Linked DNA regions of Homo sapiens: region 1 is linked to region 2. Evidence: fine-mapped expression QTL. A gene starts in region 2. The other region holds a variant in brackets. All regions are shown on one strand. Distances are between the middles of the regions.

Evidence for each region.
Region 1: its variant is fine-mapped to the expression of IGSF22 in left ventricle (GTEx, PIP above 0.99).

Annotation. Positions count from the first base shown.
Region 1 is chr11:18,779,169-18,782,072 of GRCh38, forward strand. All of the region lies in intron 1 of PTPN5 (protein tyrosine phosphatase non-receptor type 5), which reads right to left. Among named protein-coding and RNA genes, the nearest start is that of PTPN5, 11 kb to the right of the region's middle. The variant A/G (reference allele first, on the strand shown) is at 1,411.
Region 2 is chr11:18,724,754-18,727,657 of GRCh38, forward strand. IGSF22 (immunoglobulin superfamily member 22) reads right to left here and starts at 1,435. Exons shown (of 23, transcript NM_173588.4): 1 at 1,321-1,435. All of the region lies in intron 2 of IGSF22-AS1 (IGSF22 antisense RNA 1), which reads left to right.

The DNA.
Region 1 (2,904 bases), 54 kb after region 2:
GGCCCCTACCCTCAGCCTGATTTAACCCTTCTGTGCTCAGGCCTGGCTCACGTCATGGCAACCTGGGAAGATCTTGGCATCTTCAGGTTTGGTGGAAGAGTCTAACTGAGTCAGAAGCAGGGCCTGGAGGGGAAGACACAGCGAGGCTGGGTTTGGAAACATTAGCTGGATTTGAGGCTCTTTTGCAAGGAAAAAAAAAAAAATAGAGTGTAAACTAGGAAAAAATCCCAGGTGGGACCAAGAGTCAAGGTTGAAAGGAGCCTGACCTCTTGAATTCAAATTTAATAAATAGCAGCTGCAGACCTACCATATGCCACATGCTTCTCAGTACCTTATTTCATTAGCTCTTTGAGACAACCCCATGAAAACATCATTATCTCACTCTGCAGGAGCTATAGGCACTTAAGAGAGGTTAGGGACTGACATGAGAGCAGGTACGTGGTCTCCCTGGTCCTGGGCCAAGGATGGCTGATTCTCTCCTTTCCCTGTGCCAGTGGACAGCTGGAAACCTGGGCCCAGGGCAGGCTGTCAACAGAGGTCCTCAGTCACGGGCTGAATTCCTCAAAGCACGACAGACTGACCATTCTGAGATCACATATTGTAAGGCAACCCTGGTCCTCCGGGAAAAGGATGAATTCAGAGGCAGAGAGACCTGGCTAACATGCTGTGCTCTGCCACTTTCTCCACAAGGGGCCTTGGGTCGGTGTCCTAACCTCTCTGAGTCTCAATTTCCTCCCACTTAACATGGCACCGATGAGAGCTGCAGGGTTGTGATGAAGCCTGGGAAGCGAGGGCTGTACATAGGGAGAGCTTGGCAGTCCTGGGCAGGCCTCCTTCTCCATATTCCTGCTGACCTGGCTCGAAGCTTCACTTCCTGTCTCCCTCCAAGTCAACCTCACACAGGAGACACTCCTGCTCTTTGTACCAGGCAGTGCCATCAGCTACAAAGGTCTGCTTCCTATTTCCTCAGGCTCTGTCAGGTGTTCCTGGAGCTAATGAGAACAATGCAGGTGACAGCAGCTGGAGGATGAGAGGGGTCTTCCCAGCAGAACCTCCTCTGCCCTCTGGAGAGCTCCAGGCTGTTTCCAGGTCCCCAAGTCAGACCCAGAGCCCTAGGAAAGGGCGGGTAAAAGAACTGGAAACTCCACTTCACAGGATTTCCCAAATCCTCCTCTGCCATGACATCCGCCTGCCCCAGCCATGCTCCCTCCTGCTTTTCTGCCTTAGTCTCTCAGCTCCTAGAGCGGCCCCTAGCTCCTGCCACACCCTGCTGTGGGCTCCAGCTTCTCATCAGGGCCCCTGCCCCCCGCCTAATTTAACCCTTCTGCACTCAGGCCTGGCCAGGAAAGGCCTTCCTGCTCCTCCTCTTTGTGCTGTGGTTTCCAGCCCTTCCAAGGCCCACCTCAGCCC[A/G]GGTCTCCTCCAGGAAACCTCCCTAGTGAGTCTAGGGTGTGTTGACCTCTCCTCTGGCTCAATCCTTCCCCCAGCACTTTTTGTGACTTGGAAACTGGTAATGAGCCACACCCTGTCCCGGGCTGCTCCCTGGCTCTCTTGTCCATAACTTTGGCTTCTGTAAACTTCCCAGGCTGACAAGGGGCAAGGGATAAAACCCCCTCTTTATCCCCCACGACAGAAAGCCCAGTGCAGAGGAGAAAAAAACATGGAAGGCAGGTCCAGCTCTTTCCTTTACACTCAGATTTGGAAGGAAGATGGGAAGGAAAGACCAAGTGGGAGAAAAAGAAGAAAGACATGAGTGGAAAGGAGTGAAGGAAGAGGGAAGGGCTGCTGCATGACACTCAGTACCAGGGTCATGAGAGGACAGATCAGGCCCACGATCCAGGTGGCCTTGAATCATGCTTTAGGGCTCTCACACTCTGATTATGCAACTCCTAGGCTTGACACAGAGACCTCTTTGAAAACCTTTGGAACTCACCTCCTCCAGGCAGCCTTCTGAGATTGACTCTGATCTTTGCCGCACCCCCCCGGCCCCGCCCCGGCCCCCTTGACTCCCTGAGCTGCGCTACTTTGCACTCATCCATGCCACTTCCCATGATGCTAGGTCCTCTGGGGAAGGGATGGAGGTCTCTGCCTCACTGGCAGGAAGTCAGTTTACATTTATCATCTGTAGCCAGAGATCAGACTGTCTTTTTTTGACCACTTTTTTTTTTTTTTGAGATGGAGTCTTCCTCTGTCACCCAGGCTGGAGCGCAGCGGCGCGATCTAGGCTCACTGCAGCCTCCGCCTCCCGGGTTTAATCAATTCTCCTGCCTCAGCCTCCCAAGTAGCTGGGACTACAGGAGCCTGCCACCACACCTGGCTAGTTTCTGTATTTTTAGTAGAGATGGGGTTTCACCATATTGGCTAGGGTGGTGTCAAACTCCTGACCTCAAGTGATCCACCCGCCTCGGCCTGGTGCTGGGATTACAGCCATGAGCCACCATGCCCAGCTCCAACTTTATTAGCTCCAGGGGGTGGTTCAGAATATATTTTGTATTTTAAACCCAGTTTGTCTCTAAGATAATCTTACTATAATCTTATATCAATTTCTTTAATATCAGGCTCTGTACTGAGCCTTGGGGGACACACAGATAACTAAGAGCCAGTCCCTGCCCTCCACCCAGCATTCGGCCTAGTGAGTTGAGTGAGAAATGCATTAAAGGCCCACTGAGGCTGTCTTATGGGAGCACTCAGGAGGGCACAAAAACAGAGTCTGGGAAGCTGCACAGAAGAGACCCGAAGGACAAGCAGGAGTTCACCAGATACAGGGAGGACATTCCAGGCAGGGAACACTGCAGGGCAAAGGCCCGGAGAGGTGAAAGCACAAGGTATGCCAGGCAGACGAGGCAGCTCAGTGTAGCCACAGAGTAGACGTAAGAGGGACTCTTGTCACACAGCAGACGGCTTCAT
Region 2 (2,904 bases):
CACTACAATTCTGCTTGTGTTTGCGACATGGTAAAGGCAAAGGTTTAGTTTTTCTTACATTTTTCTTTGAACTGGTAATTCAATCACATAGTTAAAGAATAAAACAATATAAAAATCCATATGGACAGGCTCCCTCCCACTCCTGCGTCTATCTTACAACCTTCCCCATTGCAACAGGTAGCCAGTCTCTAGGCTCCTTCTAGACCTCCATCATGCAAATAGGAAAACTCATGTGTTCTTATCATCTTCCTTTTTTTTTTTTAATTAAAAAAGCACATAAGGTAGCCCATTATACACACTATTCTGACCCTTTCTTTTTTCATTTAATGTGTCTTGGAGATTTTTTCCATACCAGATGATAGCGTTTCCTCATTCCTGTTCAGAGCACCATGTTTTCTCAATGTTTTATTTAACCAGCATTGCGGTTTTTTTTGGGTGATCTCGGCTCATTGCAACCTCCTCCTCTCGAATTCAAGCCATTCTCCTGCCTCAGCCTCCCCAGCAGCTGGGTTTACAGGCACGTGCCACCATGCCCAGCTAATTTTTGTGTTTTCAGTAGAGACAGGGTTTCATCTTGTTGGCCAGGCTGGTCTCAAACTCCTAGCCTCGATTGATCCGCCTGCCTTGGCCTCCCAAAGTGCTGGGATTATAGGTGTGAGCCACTGCATGTGGCCAGCATTGCAGTTTTTTTGTTTTTGTTTTTTTGAGACAGAGTCTTGCTCTGTTGCCCAGGCTGGAGTGCAGTGGCACGATCTTGGCCCACGACAACCTCTGCCTCCCAGGTTCAAGCAATTCTCCTGCCTCAGGCTCCCGAGTAGCTGGGACTACAGGCACCCGCCATCACACCCGGCTAATTTTTTGTATTTTTAGTACAGATGGCGTTTCACTATGTTGGCCAGGCTAGTCTCGAATACCTGACCTCGTGATCCGCCCACCTCAGCCTCCCAAAGTGCTAGGATTACAGGCGTGAGCCACCGCGCCTGGCCCAGCATTGCAGTTTTTAAAGTCCTATTTCGTATATGAGGAAACTGATGTCTGAAAGAAATGACCTGTCCAAGGTCACTCAGACTAGACTCCTAGCTTTTGACTCCAGTCCAGTGGCGTCCCAGAGGGCTCCAAAGCCTTCTTTAACCCAGGTAGTTAGGGGTTAAACTCTATTCCCTCTCTCCACCCCCTAATATATCTCTGCCTGGGCTGCTTCTACCTTTGGGTTCTGAGACTACTCCCCTGTTCCTATTCCTGCCCTCTACCCTATAGTCCCCTCTGGGCTCAGAAGGTGGTCAGCTTTGTCCCCTTCCTGAGGGAGGAGGGGAGCCTTACCTTCAGCACTGACCAGTCCCTCCCAACACTCGAATGCTGTGTCCACGGCTTTGGAGGCTCAGCTAGTGCCTGGACTGTAGGGTGGCCCGTCTCCTTCTTCCTTTGCCCCAACAGTGAGGCTACCAGTGTCATCTGTTCCTTAAATGTCTGGCCCCCTGGGGGCGATTCCTTAGTCAGGCTCTGCAGCTGTCTCAGCTAGATGGCACACTGCTTGGTTGTGGGGGGAGGGGGAGGGCGGTGGAGAAGGGAGGCGGGAAGCAAAGCTGGATCCAGGCTGGGGGAAACACTGAAGGCCAGGCGGGAAGGAGGCTGAGGGTGGCAGTCCAGGGGTACTTTTTTTGTTCCCTTGTGGTACAGGTTTTGGCTCTCACTGCTGCTGGGTAGGACCTCTCTGAGCTGAGGGGCTCAGGGTAGTGTGTGTGCACAGGCACACACTCAGGTACAGGTGCATGCATAGTCCAGCAGGGCTCAGGGAGCAAAGCAACAGGTCTGTATTTTCCAGGGACTGGGACACGGTGAACTGGGGAGGGCCTCTGGGATCTGCTGCGTTGCTACACAAATCCAGGGGTTCCCATTCATGTTGCACTCCTATGTGTGGTTCATACACAGCCTGAGTATCTTTACAAGGCCACCCTGGGGAAGAACAGGGAAATGTTAGGTCTCCTTCCTCTTCCCACTTCAACAGCCCAATCTCCCTAATCTGGGTAGAAGAGTAGGAGGGCCCATCCTCCGGGGGTTGTGGGGAGGTCTCTGCTTGAGGGTGACTGGAGAGTATGGCCACCTCTTCTCAAGGACTTCCATCTGGGCTGCTTCAGCCACCTGTTGTTTTCTTTTCTTTTCTTTTTTTTGAGATGGAGTCTCTGTCACCCAGACTGGATGCAGTGGCACGATCTTGGCTCACTGCAACCTCTGCCTCCCAGGTTCAAGCGATTCTCCTGCCTCAGCCTCCTGAGTATCTGGGATTACAGGCGTGCACCGCTACGCCCGGCTAATTTTTGTATTTTTAGTAGAGATGGGGTTTCACCATGTTGGTCAGGCTGGTCTCGAACTCCTGACCTCATGATCTGCCACCCCTCGGCCTCCCAATGTGCTGGGATTACAGGCGTGAGCCACCGTGTCCAGCCCACCCTGTTGTTTTCTCATCATCTGTAGCACACCCCGCATGCCTGGACCCTGGATCCCACCCAAGGTTCTGGCACCTTGTAAGGACTTGTTGGTCAGCACCCTTGCCCTGGACCCCTCCTTCTGCCCTGGGGTGACCCCCACCTGCCAGCAGTGGCATCATGGCTACTTTTGCTCCATCCCAGGGGGGCAGGGGACAAGAATAGAGCAGGAGTGTCCAGGATGGCTCAGGATCTCAGCCCACATGCAGATTCCCTGGGCCCCTTGGGAGGAGCTACTCTGAGCCCAGGCCTTACAAGGGAAATTACTGGGCTGCAGCTGCTGTTGGGATCTGTGGAGCTAACATGGGATAAGAGTTTGGCCAACAGGGAGGGGCCTGGGTGTGACCTGAATGTCTCCTTACCCTAGCCTTGGCTTCTCTGGCACATCTGTTGGAAATGGTGACCTGCCAGCCACTGTGCC